Linked DNA regions of Homo sapiens: region 2 is linked to region 1. The links come from fine-mapping of genetic effects on gene expression. Tissue or cell type: sigmoid colon. Region 1 holds a variant in brackets; the other region holds the start of a gene. All regions are shown on one strand. Distances are between the middles of the regions.

Region 1 (8,186 bases):
GAGATACAATGAATAGAACAGAGAAGGTCCCTGAATTTATGGAGTTTACATTCTAATGAAAGAGCATAACTAGTAAACAAGATAATTAGAGACTGTAATACAGTCATCCCTCGGTATCCAAAGGGGATGGGATTGGTTCCAGGACCTTCTGGATACCAAAATCCATGGATGCTCAAGTCCCTGATGAAAAATGGCATAGTATTTGCATATACCTGAGTACGACATCCCATACACTTTATTTACTTTTTGAGACAGAGTCTCACTCTGTCGCCAAGGCTGGAGTGCAGTGGTGCCATCTTGGCTCAATGCAACCTCCGCCTCCTGGGTTCCAGTGATTCTCCTGCCTCAGCCTCCCGAGTAGCTGGGATTATAGGCCCCCGCCACAACAACCGGCTAATTTTTGTATTTTTAGTAGAGATGGGGTTTTGCCATGTTGGTCAGGCTGGTCTCGAACTCCTGACCTCAACTGATCTGCCCGCCTCAGCCTCCCAAAGTGCTGGGATTACAGGGGTGAGCCACCGCAACTGGCTCATCCCAAACACTTTAAGTCATCTCTAAATTACTTATAAAACTTAATACAATGTAAATAGCTATTACACTAATGTCTGTATTGTTCAGAGAATAATGACAAGAAAAAAATATGTGTACATAAGTACAGACACAATTTCTTTTTCTGAATATTTTCAATCTGTGTGGTTGAATCCATGGATTTGGAACCCACAGATGCAGAGGGTTGACTGCAAATATATATATACTTTTAAGGAAAGATGATGATTAAAACAAGAAGTAACTGTTGGAGGCCATTTCAAATAGGCTGATCAGAGAAGACAAAGCTTCAATAAGGTGTTAACATTTGGGCTGAAAATCTAAAGGATGAGAATAAGCAAGCCGTGTGGAGAGCAAACTGGTGAACTGCAGGCCCCTGAAAAATTACCTTAAATGCATTCTACCAGTGAGCACTCTAAAAGTTCTGCCATGTTAAATACCGACGAGGCAAAAATCCAATTTCTGAAATAATTTAAAATGACAATTTCTTTAACCTCTTTAACTCATCTAAAATATACATTTAATTTCACAAACTTCAGACTTCCACTAAAATGTAAGCTCCTTAAAGGCAAGATTTTATCCATCATGTCCACCACCATCATCCTTAGCACCTGGAGTGAGCACAGGCAACTAGACGGCATTCAATATCTTTTGAATAAATAATGGAATAAAAGTACTTGAATTCAAATTTTCCAAGTGGCAATTAAATAAAAACTGAAGTAAAGCTTTCACAAGAAACAATGCTTATATTCTTTAAAACAAAAAGCCAGTAAACTCTGACCCATAGTCCAAATCTAGCCTGCTACTTGTTTTTTTAAGTAAAGTTTTATTAGAACATAGCCACACCCACTCATTCATGTATTATATATAGCTACTCTTGAGTAGCGGAGCTGAATAGTTGCAAGACACTGTGTGGTATGAAAAGCCTAAAATATATACATACTATCTTGCCCTTTATGGAAAAAGTTTGCTGACTCTTGCTTTACATAATAATCTTTATTGTATTTTCATGAATGCTTCAGGAACAAATTCTTTCTGTGGGAATCACTAAATAAGGCTCCTAAGCAACCTCTGTAAAAATACACTTAATTTTTTTTTTATGTTTTTGATTATACTTTAAGTTCTAGGGTACATGTGCACAACGTGCAGGTTTGTTACATATGCATGCATTTGCCATGTTGGTGTGCTGCACTCATTAAGTCGTCATTTACATTAGGTATATCTCCTAATGCTATCCCTCCCCCAGGCCCCCACCCCACAACAGGCCCCGGTGTGTGGTGTTCCCCACCCTGGGTCCAGGTGTTCTCATTGTTCAATTCCCACCTATGAGTGAGAACATGCAGTGTTTGGTTTTCCGTCCTTGCAACAGTTTGCTCAGAATGATGGTTGCCAGCTGCATCCATGTCCCCACAAAGGACATGAACTCATAATTTTTATGGCTGCATAGTATTCCATGGTGTATATGTGCCACATTTTCTTTGTCCAGTCTATCACTGATGGACATTCGGGTTGGTTCCAAGTCTTTGCTATTGTGAATAGTGCCACAATAAACGTATGTGTGCATGTGTCTTTATAGCAGCATGATTATAATCCTTTGGGTATATACCCAGTAATGGGATGGTTGGGTCAAATGGTGTTTCTAGTTCTAGATCCCTGAGGAATTGCCACACTGTCTTCCACAATGGTTGAACTAGTTTACAGTCCCACCAACAGTGTAAAAGTGTTCCTATTTCTCCACATCCTCTCCAGCACGTTGTTTCCTGACTTTTCAATGATCGCCATTCTAACTGGTGTGAGATAGTGTCTCACTGTGGTTTTGATTTGCATTTCTCTGATGGCCAGCGATGATGAGCATTTTTTCACGTGTCTGTTGGCTGCATAAATGTCTTCTTTTCAGAAGTGTCTGTTCATATCCTTTGCCCACTTTTTGATGGGGTTGTTTTTTTCTTGTAAATTTGTTTAAGTTCTTTGTAGATTCTGGATATTAGCCCTTTGTCAGATGGGTAGATTGCAAAAAATTTCTCCCATTCTGTAGGTTGCCTGTTCACTCTGATGGTAGTTTCTTTTGCTGTGCAGAAGCTCTTTAGTTTAATTAGATCCCATTTGTCAATTTTGGCTTTTGTTGCCATTGCTTTTGGTGTTTTAGACATGAAGTCCTTGCCCATGCCTATGTCCTGAATGGTATTGCCTAGGTTTTCTTCTAGGGTTTTTATGGTTTTAGGTCTGACATTTAAGTCTTTAATCCATCTTGAATTAATTTTTATATAAGGTGTAAGGAAGGGATCCAGTTTCAGCTTTCTACATATGGCTAGCCAGTTTTCCCAGCACCATTTATTAAACAGGGAATCCTTTCCTCATTTCTTGTTTTTGTCAGGTTTGTCAAAGATCAGATGGTACACTTAATATTATTTTAATAAATCTATGCAATTTTATAAATGGGCACTTGAATATATTGATATGATAGTTTTTAATCTCATATTTTTTATTAAAAATGCAGTATAAAATCCTTTATAGCTATTTTTCAAAAAATCTTTAAGATATGTATACATACGTGTGTGTTTGTGTGTGTGTGTATGTGTGTCGGCCATAGGCAAAACAAACAAACAAAAAAAACCCTTTCCATAAACACATGAACCTCAAGTGTGTTATCTTACCAGTTTTCGGAAGACTGAGTGGACTGTCTGCTTTTCTCTTTTATTCCCATTGTAAAAGGCAATTTCTTCACTATTAAAGAAAATAATTTAGCAATTAATTTTAATGTTACCTATGCTTGGAAAATAATTGAAATACAGTATATGATGGCTGAATGTTTGTATTTAAATGGACATTTTGTGACTAAGAGCTTATCTGGTGCATCTCAAGCCACAGTCTATACCTGAGATTCTGTTCCTAGCTCAGCTGATCGGAGCACAGGAATACACTCCTGACTGAATCATATGCTGGACTGCAACCTATGGCATAGGTATCCTGGCTGCAAAAGACATACTGCACGAATTCTCAGAAATTCGAAATTAGAGAAAGAAGTTGCTGTGATGTACAGAAAGGCAGGGCTGGGACCAACATTGCAGACTTCAAGTTAAAGTACAGGCCCAAACAAGAAAGAGATGAAAAAGCAACAGCTAGAAAAAGATGGATAGTGATGACTTGACATACAGCCTTTTAAAGACAGAAAAGCAGGCTAAGTCCCACCGGCTTCAAAGTGCCAGCTCCCAGGAGGAAACCCTGGAACCCCATCATATCCTCACAACAATTCCACGTTTCCTGAGCAGATGTGCATGGGTCCACAAGGGCCACAGGGATCACGACTAGAAAAAAA[A/G]GGTATTTTATAGATGAAGAGAAGTTCAGTGTAGTTAAGTAAATTTGTAAAGGTTGCAGAGCCAGCAGGTCAGGGAGCTGAAATCATAACTCCTATCTGACCCTAACATTTATAGTCTTTCTATTACACAGGAATGATGTAAGCTTTCCCAGCAAAGTACCTCTTATGGCAGAGAAAAATATTTATAGAGAAGTCTAGAAGGCAAGGTTGAAATATTTCTTTAAAGTCTCTTTTTTCCCCTAAACAATTTATGTTTTATATTTCTATTTTGAAATGGACCTGCGTTTTTCATAAAAACAAGGTACCACCTACCTCAACCACTTCAAGTAAAATTAACTTCCCATAAGATATGACACATTTGTCACGCGTTTCATGGTTTCCTTGACACAATGACAGAGACTCAAGAGTATAAGAAGCCTACAATTCTATACCTCTAATTACTTTTTAAAAAAACTTCCTTCTATCTCCTCTCCACACCTAAGCCTATGGAAGAAGATGAGGTGAGGATTCTCCTCCTGAACTGAGTCATTTTAGCCTTAATGAAAAATCTGAAAGGATAAAACATCCTGGAATATTGATGGCTGCCCATCCAACATCTATTCTCTTCATTGTTCTTCTTCCTAAAATAATCCCAACTTTTGTAAAGTTATCTATTATTTTCCATGTACCCTAATGCTTTAGGAATGCCTCAACCCCATTTAGGGTCCCAACTGGTCTAAGCCAATCACTTTGCTGTGATTGCTTTAGGCATGGTCAAGTAACCATTCCAGCCAATAAGATATGAGGGAAAGTCAGTTGTGGGACTCTTGGGAAAGGTTTCTTTGCTCTCATAAAGACACACCAGGCGAGATGGCCCCTTTTTGTTTCTGGAGCTTTCTGCAGGGGAGAGGAGCTAGTGAAATCTGTAACTGCTATCGCCATCTTGTGGTCACAAGAAGAATTAGCCCGAGGAATGGGGCAGCATACAAAGCAGGGCAGAGCCAAGAGAACACCAGAGAGCCAGAGCCCTGATAATGCCATACCTGGAACTGCCCTGTCTTAAGGGTTCTCACGTGAAGCAGTGAGTGTTCTTATTACTGGAGCCATGAGTCATGCTTTCTGCTTCTTTCACTAAAAGGCATCTTTCATTTACTTGGCAAATCACCTCTTAACTCTATTCCGCTGCCTCCCTAGAGCAAAAAACCCTATTTAAAACTTGTACTATTTTAGCAATCCAAGGAAATAAAGGAAGAGGGAACTGTCATTTGCAAATGCCTATAGAGTAGAATATTAAATACATATTAGAACCCTCAAAATGACTTAACATTAACAGATCAATATATGAGAACATTTATTGAGCAGTTGCTCCATATAAAAAACTGAGCTGGAAGCTTTATATGTATTATCAAATTTAATCCTCATTGCAACCCTATATTATCTACCTATTATAAACAAAAGTGAAACTATGAATAATTCGCTAAAATCAAATACATGCAACTGATAAGTGGAAGAGGTAGATTTTGAAGCTAGTATGGCTGGCTCCAAAGTCCACACTTTTTCTTCCTATCTTACATTTAAAAAACTCTAGAAAATAGGTAGAGGCACATGCAGTGACAGTGAATCATTGAGCATTATGAACAGTCAAAATAAAAATATTTGTGGAAAAATTGAGACAAAATTGTCTTGGAACAGGTATTGTAAGTTGAAATTTGAATTGTAAACTGATTATGTCTGAAGTAAAATTAACAGAAAATTCATCAACAGAAGGTATGAACAGGTGAATCAGGAATACTACATGGTTAGTAAGAAAAAGAGTTCAAAATATTCATGATTACTACTTTATAAAACTAGTCTCTTTCATAATGTATATTTTCAACACAATATGCACATTATTACAGTAACAGTGTCACTAGACTTTTTGGAGTCAATTTAAATGACATCAATATCCATAGAAATTAATTTTTAGCAAGGCTTTAATGCATTTGTCTTTACCTGTTTGTGATGAGCCGAGAATTAACATATCTATATTCTCCTTCATACTTTTGCTCAGTTATTGTCATCTTACCAATGGGTCTTCGAAGTCGAGTTAGGAATAGCCCAGAAACAACCAAGTAGGCCATCATGCTCGCTGGGCCCTATTATTATTGGGAGAGAAAGATACACAAAGTTCTGGGATATAATAATAAATTCACTTAGATACAAACATGTACAATTTTTATAATTAACCTCAATGACTGAAAGAAATTGCCCTACTGGGTAATTTTTTCCCTTTGTTTTTTTTCTGAAAAAGTACACAGTAGCCTCTACACTTTTACTACTCATGGGCTTTTCCTCTTACCACTGTAGCTTATCCCTCAGCTCTCCTACATTTTGCTCACCTAAAAACTCCTAATTGCAGTTCACAGTTTTTCTATGTTATCTAACACTCTCCTGTTGGAACTCTTCTTGATAATCTCTTAAGATTCCACAATAATTCTTAGACCTCTTTTTCTTGCCTTCTTTTTTAATGTTAATATTCCCTCAAACTCCTTCCTTAGTTCTCTTCTCATCTCAAATCTATACCTCTAGTCCTATCACTCTTATGAACCCAAGAAATAAGTACTACACATCTTTACCTTAATACTGTGCAGATGCCTCAAGTTCAGCTCCCCCTGAACGAGCTCTGTCTTTCCCTGCGTGTACATCTTGCTTCCAGCTGCTGTACTATGTATTAATAACTTTGTACGTGACCTCATCACCCATTGACCATCCCAAGAGAAAAAGAAAGGTATGCTTGAAGCATACCTTTCCAAGTTCATCATAGGCACTTCCCTCATTCCCCTATATACCCTATACTCTGCCATACTAAAATATATAAATGTTTCCTGAACAGTTTCCATTCAGTGAGGTTGTTCTTATGTTTGGCAAGCCTGACATAATCTAATGGATGTTTACTTACCTCCCCAAAGTAGCTCAGATATCACCTCCAGTTCTTCTTGGCACTAAATACTTTCTTGAAACTTCTATTACTAAACTTTATCATGCTGCATCATAATTGTTTGACTATCTACCTGTTTTACCACATTGTAATTCCTCTTCAGCAGGAATTGTGTCTTACTTATCTTTTTATTCCTACTATCTAGCACAATATATGTGCTAGTAAGTATTCAAGATTAAAAAAAAAAAAGTAAATCTGATCAATTCAATGCATATCAACAACTACTACAAATGTGGACCAAAAAGATAACTAAAACAGTTTCTGCCTTTAAGAAATGCAGAATCAGATAACAAGTAGACATGGAGACATATTTAAGTATCACAAAAATGTAGTTAAGTACCATAAAAATATGACTGCAAGGAGACAAGAAGGATTTGGCCTATTCACTTGGTTATAGTAAAACAAAATACAAGAATGATAAAACCTGGATCACAAGACAGCAAAGAATTAGGAAAATAAACAGAAAAATTCGAAAAACAAAACAAAGCAAAACCAAAACCCTGCTTTTCCAGTGTTTTGGAAAGCAACAAAAACCAGTATGGAAATAATTTATTAATCAACTGAAATGCATATACACACATACACATATGTAAAACAACCATACTATTATATGGCTGTGTTATAAATATGTAACAATAACATTACATATTAAATGACTAAAGTTACATTTCAATAAGATAACTCAAAGAAAACTTAAAAGTGATTCTTGCCATCACAAATATCAGAGACTTGGATAATAAGGCTCATGGGATAGCCAACCATTTACATTATAAAATATTCTTGGAACTGTTACACCCACTCTAAATGTATCGTTATTTTAACATTAGAATTTCATATTAAAATGGATGTCTCCATATCTCTTTTTAGACATTACTTTGAAACAATAAGTACAAGTATATTCATGGTTTAAGAACTTCTGTTTTATTATTATTTTTTAAAGAAGCGGGTCTCGCTTTTTGTCCAGGCTTGTCTCGAACTCCTGGATTCAAGCGATCCTCCCATCTCAGCCTCCCAAAGTGCTGGGATTACAGGCATGAGCCACCACGCCTGGCCAATACATTTGTCTGGTTTTTAATGCCACAAAATTTTTCCAAGTACCTAATTTAAGGAAAATTAAAAAGAAAAATTAGTACTTCTAAAATCTCGAATGAAGTATTATTTTATAACCAGACTTTGTTAGGTAAATCATGTGAAAATACATTCTTTGAGATCTACAAAAATTCTTACAGGCCATCAAGCTATTCACAATATGTATTTCAAATATTATATTATATCAATTTAAAAGTTGAAATAAAAGCAGACTCACCTGAGCTCCAATTGCACTCGTTAACTTAAAGATATACAAAACTATGTCTAAAAATGGCTGTA
Region 2 (8,186 bases), 63 kb after region 1:
AGAACAGTGTAGAAACTGTCCTATTTGGAACAGAGAGTACCCATTGGCAGGCAATGGCATATAAGATTAGCCAGGTAAAGTAAGACCAGATTGAGGGAGGCTCTGAAATCCAAGATGAGAAATCCGAACTCTATTTGACAAGCATTGATAAGAAGCGAAAGAAACTGCTTTGTTCTGTTCTGTTTTTTAAAGATAATAAAATACTATGGCTATACAGACTGGTACCATTCCCTGCCTTCTAAAATTGGCCCACTGATTTCCCACTACCCAGGTCAGGTTATATATGCTCAGGTACACAACTATTACTTCTGCAAAAAGAATGTTTCTATTCATGTTTGTACTAGGCATCTCCAAATGCCTGTCAATTACGCTTAAAAGTTCTTCAACTATCCTATGTCATTTATCCTCTCTATAAACACTGTCTAACCCATGACAGAGCCGAACTAGGGAATTAAAGATGACTCAGTTCATGCCCTCAAGAAACTCAGGATCTGATGTAGGCAAAAGCCAAGAAAACAAACTAGTACAATACAGAATGGTAAGTGCTAGAGTAGGGGATACCTAGAGCAGTAGTCTCCAACCTTTTTGGCACCAGGGACCAGTTTTGCGGAACACGATTTTTCCACAAATTGGGGTTGAGTTGGGGGATGGTTTCAGGATGAAACTGTTTTGCCTCACATCATCAGGCATTAGATTCTCATAAGAAGTGTGCAACCTAGATCCCTCACATGTGCAGTTTACAACAGGTTCACGCTCCTATGAGAATCTAATGCCCCTGCTGATCTGACAGGAGGCGGAGCTCAAGTGGTAATGCTCGCTTGCACAGGCTGTGCAGCTGGGTCCTAACAGGCCACCAACCTGTACCAGTCCACAGCCCGGGGGTTGGGGACCCCTGGCCTACAGTATCATAAAAGCAGAGGACACTTACATCAGTTTGGAAATCAGAAAAAGACAGAAAACACCTAAGACAAAGTGTTGACTGAGTCTTGAAGAAAAAGAAGTATCAGCTGGGCAAGTTGGCTCATGCCTGTAATCCCAGCACTTATGGTTGGATGAGTGGGAAAAGTAGGGAAGGACCACACCATGAATACAGAAAGTTTGTATTTTAGAGTAGATTAATGATTTTAATGAAGGAATATTATGATCATATCTGAGCTTCTTAAAAAGAGCTCTGGTGGCAGTGGAAGATGGATTGAAAGGGCACCACAAAGTTTCTTTCTAACATAAATGCAACAAAAATCTGATAAAGGATGCTGTAACAGTCACTTTATTCCAGTTATCCACTCCTACCCCCTTTCTAGGCTTAACACACATCCTTCATGAAGCCTTCCCCAACCCTTCCCAAACACATTAATCTTGTCTTTCTCAAAACTTCTAAGACATGTCTATCTGTACATTTCATTCTGCTATCAGTGTTTAAGTTTCTTTTCCCTAACAAGAAGGTAAGCTCCCTGAGAAAACAAGTCATATATTTTTGTAATACACACACACACACACACACACACACACATCTTATAGCTCCCAGTACAGTAATATAACATTCTGAAATAGACACTTCCTTTAAATAGCCCTCTTTATCCATGAGTAAAAAGATTCTTCTTTTCCCCATAAATAATAAAATAAAAGGTAAGATTAGGCAAACTAAGGTGAAAAAGTTAGCTTAGCAGTGCTGGAATCAGGAGTGAATACAAGCTGATCAGGAATGAATACAAAGGAACTTTCTGGTGGGATAGAAATGTTCTAATTTGTCATAGGGATGTGTTACATAGTGTATCCATTTGTTTAAAAAATGTACAACTAATATTTGTACATTTCAATGTATATAAATTTTACCTAAAAAACCTATAAAAATAAGGGGTGACAGGCAGGTTGAAATAGATGAAACAAGAATATAGAATGTTGTTGGTACTCCTTGGGTAAAGTGCATTGGGCAATCCTTGTATTATTCTATTTATTTTTTATATGTGTGAAATTTTCCACAATAAAAGGTCAGAAACACACACACATATATATGAGATTTAACTGAGTGAAAAAAATTACATTAACAAAAATTAAAAGTAACCCAGAACATTTAATTACTCATTCTCCCAATGTTTGGAATAATGTTACACTGTAACTTTTAAAGTGATTTTACTAGCTCTATTACCTATCCAATTCTAAGGGAATATATATTCTAAAACCAACCTACTATTAACAACATAGACAAAAGAAGGCCAAGTAGCCACAGTTTCCTTAATTAAGCACCAGATATTAAAATTAATCAGTTCTGTTACCAAAGATATTCAAAAGCCCACTCAAATATAAAGTTAGAATCTTCTAATCTTCAAACTGTGATACCAAAGGTGGTGACTAAAAGATATTTGTAAGCTTCTGGAAGTACAATATCTACAAAAATACACTCAATACCATTTTTAATGGTTTCAAAATAGTTCAATCATTTCACCTCAACAATTTAAACTTCATGATTATCTGCTCAGAATCTGCAATCTCCTCCAACAAAATACTGTGTAAAATAGAGATTTTCCCCACTCATCCCAATGCAAAAGACTAATAATAATCTTTTGTTCAGTACATCTCCTGCTAAAGAATTTAATCCCCACAAAAGCTCACAAAGTTTCTCAAAAAAAAATTTTTTTAGGCATTTTACAATGGCAAATGAGGAGCTAAAATTATTTAATAAGACAAATTCTATTACATTATTTTACTTCTATCGCTACTATTTCCCAATAGATTCTGTTTAAAATTTCCCTTAGCAATAATCTATGGTCTTACAAACTGGTTTAGTAGTTAGGTGGACTGTGACTGGATGGGGGCATGAGGAGAATTTCTGGGGTGCTGATAATGTTCTGTTTCTTGATCTGGGTGCTGATTACACGAGTGTGTTCTACTTGTAAAAATTCTTCAAGCTCTATGTGTACTATATGTATGTGGCATGTATGTGATACTATATCACATATACATATAATCATAAAAGTAATCCAGAACTTGTAGGGCTGTCCTCGAGTCCCCTCCTCCATATTAAAACACCTGTTCTATGCCCTGAAACACTTCTTTGCAAAAACAGAATTCAAGTTAAAGGACCTAACATCTTCTTTCTACTGGCATGTTCCCAGGTAACAGGTAACTTCTATTTGCAACTGGGAGTTCATACAAACCAACAGAAAAACTTGCTTTTTATTTTCCCAAATTAATCCTTTTAAAAGCAAACTGAATAGAAGAAAAATGAGTAAGCGCTGTTATTGCCCAGACTATGCTGCAAATCATTTTCAACTCTGTTAAATGGATTTAGGAAGGAAAAGAAAGATCATCACTTCAGACTCTAGTAAGATAAAAACAGAAGGCGGCTAGAAAGAACTTAATGGAAAGGGTACTATAAACTAGAAGTCTATTTGTGTTTTAGCCCAAATTTTACTACTAATTAGATATTGTAGGCAAATCAAACACGGGAGGCAACAGTACCTGCTCAGAGGAATGAATGAAATAAAATTCATGAAAGTAGTATGTCAAGATTTAATACGAAATATTCAATGACTGGCAAGAACGCTTGGGAAGTAGCCTTTTCTCTTTCACTTGTCCAGCAAATAAAAATTGCATGTATGTGACATACATACCTGTATGTCGCAACCGTAATTCAGCTCTCTCTTTTTTACTTTTTCTGAACTGATAACCTCCCAAAGTTAAATCTAAGCACTGAAATTCTCCCGCGGTGGAAGCAGTGGCGTGTCATTAAAAAGGAGCTTGATCCTCACCTAAACCACACTCTCATCTTTCACCTACAGAGCCCAGGAAGGAAAACATTTCCCTCTAAGTCCGACAGAACCGATCCAGCCTTTCCGGATGAAATGCCACCGACCAAATGTTCACCGACCAAAGGGTTCACCGACTCCAAGGGCTCACCACTTTAGACGGCAATCCTGCCAAGTGGACCGGGAATAGTTTCATAGAAGCCACCCTCGCGACTTTCAATAGCAGTTAGTCGGGAATCGAGCCAAACCTCGTCCAAGTGACTTAGACACCAGCCTCCAGCCTGGCGAATCCAATCCCCATCCTCAATCACACATCCACGTCCCCAAAACAAATCCTTCACGGTCTGAAGATGAGATGGCAAAACCAGAACACACCCAGAAAGTTGACACAGAAGGGGGTGATGTAGGGAAGGGGGTGGGGGACACACCGCATCCCCCTCCCACCCCCAACTGGAGGCCGCTGCCTGAGTGCTGGCTGGGCGCCGGTTCGCCCGCGGGCACAGAAGAATTCGCACTCCCGGGGTGGAGCGAGGTCGCCGGACAGGCCAGCTGGGACCGACGCCGTCGTGGCGGGGACTCGCGGACACCCTGACATTGAAGTCCCACGGCAGTCGCGGTCGGCCCTCTCTCCGCCCGACCCCGTCGGGCAAAGAGACCTGTCGGCCGGGTGGGGAGAGAGAGCGCGCGGGGAGCGCCCGCTCCAGCCCGGGAAAGCTGCACGGCTACGGGCCTTCTTACCCGTGCAGGCCGAGGGCGCGGCGCCGCTTGTGGAGCAGGCAGAGCAGCAGGAACGCGGCACCAGCCAGCGAGGAGTTTCGCGCCGTCAAGTACTTGCTGAAGGCCGCCATGGCACTGCCGGTACCAGCGAGCCGGCGAGGGGACGCGGCGGCGGCGGCGGCGGCGGCTACCTTACTGCACGCAGCGCGGGGGAGACTGGGAGGAGAGCAGAGGGCGGGGCCGGCCGCGCAGGACCGCCCCCTGGCTCGCGCCGCCGCGCCGCCCGCGCTCTGGAGCCCACTTTGTACTTTGGCCCGGCGGGAGCGCGCTCGGCAGCCTCCGTGGGCGGAACAGTTCCCGGGACGCGCTCTGCGCACGCGCGGACTCCTTCAGGGTCTCCGGAAACGCGGCGCGGAGGAGCTGTTGCTACTCAGCCCTGCGAGGCGTCAGTGCTGCCCCTGCCTCACCCCTACCCTCCCACTCTTCGCGCGCACACCCCGGCTTTCACAATAACTGGATGAGCGGGCCTGGCCTGCAGCGACGACCTAGTGGGCCCTGCCTCTCCACTCCCGCGGTGATGTACCGTTACCACCCTCTTAAAGGAGCCCAGGAAGGAGGCGGACGGCCCCGTCACAGAGCGTGTAGGGAAAACACAGCACAGTGATTATCAGGACGAAACCAAACAATCGGAACTCCGCAGAGGTGTAGGGAGATGTGAGGAGAATGACACAGATCAAAGAGCTTTTTCCAAGCCAGTATTTTCCAAACCGCGGGTTATAATCTCTAGCGCATTGTGAAATTGGTTTGGTAGATCGGGATCATCACCCTCCGTTTTTAATAAAATTGAGAATAGAACAAAATAGAAAAGTTTCACAGTACATCACGTAGTAAAGGAGTTGTTTAGAGAAATTTCGATTTCAGTGTTTTGCACGTATGTATCGCCAGCGGCGATGTAAAATGTATGCAGATCTGGTCAGAAAAAAGTTTGAGAAACACTGTTCTTTGCAAAGGGACATTCAGAAGTAACAATCGTGCGTTGTATTAATGCTGGCCTCACTCCCAGAATCAGAAGGGCTTTGCAGATTACAACATTCTTCTCCTGTCTGACCCTATGTTGCAGGAATTGTTATCGCCAGCATTGAGCCTAGCATATATACAGTAACAGTGAATCGCTGTTTTCAGCTGAGGAAACTGGAGAAAAGCAAGTGTGTCAGAAAATAAGCTCATAAAACCTCGCATAATGCACATACATATTAAAGTAGCCTACAAAGTAGTGGTGCTGTGCCCTAGGTGTTTTCTCAATATAAATGAGCTGTTGCCTAATACAGGTTATGAGGATCACAAAGACGAGGTACAATAATGGCATGCGTATAGAGGTGCTCAACAGTGAATTCTAAATTATGCAGAACTGAAGCTCCTACTAATTCACTATTTGTCATGTGGACATTTTCATTACCTGGAGGGACAAAAGGTTTTGGCCCTCTGAAAGTTAACTGAAAACCGCTGACATAAGGCAGATTAATAGAAGAAAAAATTAATAGGAGAAAAGGCATACAAATTTAATGTGTATACATGGGAGCGTTCAGAATGGAGACCCAAAGATACTTGGAAAATTGTCCATTTTTGTGTTTAGGTTCAACAAAGTATGGACAGCTATGTAGAAATGTGATTGGACAAAAATGGTATAATCTAATGCTAACAGACTGAGTGGGGACACCCAGCAAGGCCTGTCTAGATTCTTCTTGGCCTTCTGAGCACCATTCCTTCCTTCTGGGTATAGGGCAGGAATGGAATGGAGCTCTTAACAGCCTACAGTCAAACAAGGCAGGTCAGATAATTTCTTTATGGCCAGATTTTACAGAAAAAGGGGGAGGGAAAACTAGCAAAATATGTTTAGGCTTTTATGGCTGGCTTTAGGGGATAGAGGTTCTGGTTTCTACATCTTGTCTTGAGGAATAGGGATCCTAATATCTATGGCTAGCCTAGGGAAATACGGGACTGAGAGACAGGAGGGCCAGAGTAGGGCAGAGAACTTTTGCTACTGAGACCTTCATTTTGGAGTATTGTGTTGTGAGCCCCAACGACCTCACATAATTTACGTAATTAAGTATGCCTGGCACAGATAACACAAGGATGAACAGATCATGGAGATCATATTCTCCAGAGGCTGTTAGAGAAGAAAAACGTGTAAAAAAAATCAAGTATAAATGTGGTAAGTACTATATTAGAGATATGAACAAGGTGCTATGAGAACACAAACATGAAAATATTTAGTTTTGTCTAATGCTTTCAATAAAGGCTTAAGGCTTGACAAAGGTGATTCTGTAGCTAAATTCTAAAGGACCGCAGGAGTCACTCAGGAGGACAAAACAGGAAATTACTAATTCAGTAATAAAGTGCTAGAAAAGAGTTGGGAACCTTGTGAGAAAGTAACGGTATCATCTTAGAGTTTGTAACAGTGAAGGAAGTACAAGCAAGATTAGTCAAAAACAGTCTAGAAAATAGATTTCAAAACAGTCAGAGGAAAGATAGAAATGATCTATTGACAAAACATTCTAAAAGTTACCCTTGTTCAAGAAGCATGGGAGATTCTAAAAAATTACACTAGTTATTCGAGCTCAAATAATTTTAGCTATTGATAAAGCCCATCTGACAAAAATCACCAGGACCAAATCTGGAACCCATTAAGTTTATTAATTTGCTACAGCAAAAGATACTATACAGCAGAGGAATTGTGGCCATGTCTCAAAAAAAAGGAAGAAATAAGGAGTCATTATAGTATTTAGAGAAAGAGAGGAGTTTAGGTAAAATCTAAATAAAGCAGTGCTTGATAGGCCTAAAGCAAATCAGATCTGTATGTAATATCAAACCTGGGCTGAGAAGCAGATTCAAGATTCTAGTTCTTAGAAACATACATTTAAGATTAATGTAGAATATTGTGTCTGAAAATCCCTTATCTGAACTTCTGCACTGGAAATGGAGACTGCTTCTGTAACTCTAAGTGACTCAAAGAGTTCAAATCTGCCAGGCAAGAAAGGGATGTTCTGTTCTCACTGATAGAATCTCAGAACAACAAACTTTCTAACAGTCTAGGATTTTAGAGAACAAAATTCCTCAGCACTATGTCCTTTGATAATTAACAATGCAATTTTGCAAGTTCACACTTCATAATATTAAATAATAAAGAAAAACAGAAAATGTGATTTTATGGGGGAGATCTCCAAGAGCTCTGATTTTTAAAGAATTTGAGCTACTGAGAACAGGTAGGCAGGGCATAGGAAGTTAGTGAATCTAGAAAGCCTCTGGAAGAAATGTTGTGTTAGCCAGACTCCAAGATTGTCCCTGGTGATCATGGTGTCCTAATATTTATGCCCTCATGGAATTTCCCTCACATCAGAGCTGAGTTTTGTGACCAAAAGAGTATAATGAAGGTGATGCTATGTGACTTCAAAGGCCAGATTATAAAAGGCACTGTGGCTTCTGCCTTGGTGTCTTGGATTGCTTGCTCTTGGGGAAGCCAGCTGCCACAGAGAGCACTCAAAGTGCCCTGGAGAGGAACTGAGGCCTCCCACCAGGAGCCAGACCAGCTTGCTAGCCATGGGAGTGGGCCATCTTGGAAGCAGATCCTCCATCCTCAGTCAAGCCTTCAGGTGACTGCAACCTCATGAGTAATCTCAAACCAGACAGCTCAGCCAAGATGCTGCTAAATTCCTGACTCGTAGA

Direction of the effects. Positions count from the first base shown, and alleles are read on the strand shown. Sizes are in standard deviations (SD) of each study's normalised expression.
For the expression in sigmoid colon of the gene that starts at base 4,684 in region 2, allele G in region 1 goes with a lower level than allele A (moderate effect, 0.71 SD a copy in GTEx).

What was found. PIP is the estimated chance that this variant, and not a neighbour inherited with it, causes the effect.
Region 2: it holds the start of ABCD3, and the variant in region 1 is fine-mapped to the expression of ABCD3 in sigmoid colon (GTEx, PIP above 0.99). The same link has a PIP of 0.9 or more in aorta, blood mononuclear cells, esophagus muscle, gastroesophageal junction, subcutaneous fat and tibial artery.

The regions. Positions count from the first base shown.
Region 1 is chr1:94,478,254-94,486,439 of GRCh38, reverse strand. ABCD3 (ATP binding cassette subfamily D member 3) reads right to left here. Exons shown (of 23, transcript NM_002858.4): 8 at 8,125-8,181; 9 at 5,834-5,976; 10 at 3,201-3,270. Among named protein-coding and RNA genes, the nearest start is that of F3, 59 kb to the left of the region's middle. The variant A/G (reference allele first, on the strand shown) is at 3,863.
Region 2 is chr1:94,414,887-94,423,072 of GRCh38, reverse strand. It overlaps ABCD3 (ATP binding cassette subfamily D member 3), which reads right to left and starts at 4,684. Exons shown (of 23, transcript NM_002858.4): 1 at 4,485-4,684. The coding sequence starts at 4,594. RefSeq lists enhancers at 4,093-4,232, 4,704-5,495 and a silencer at 4,563-4,942.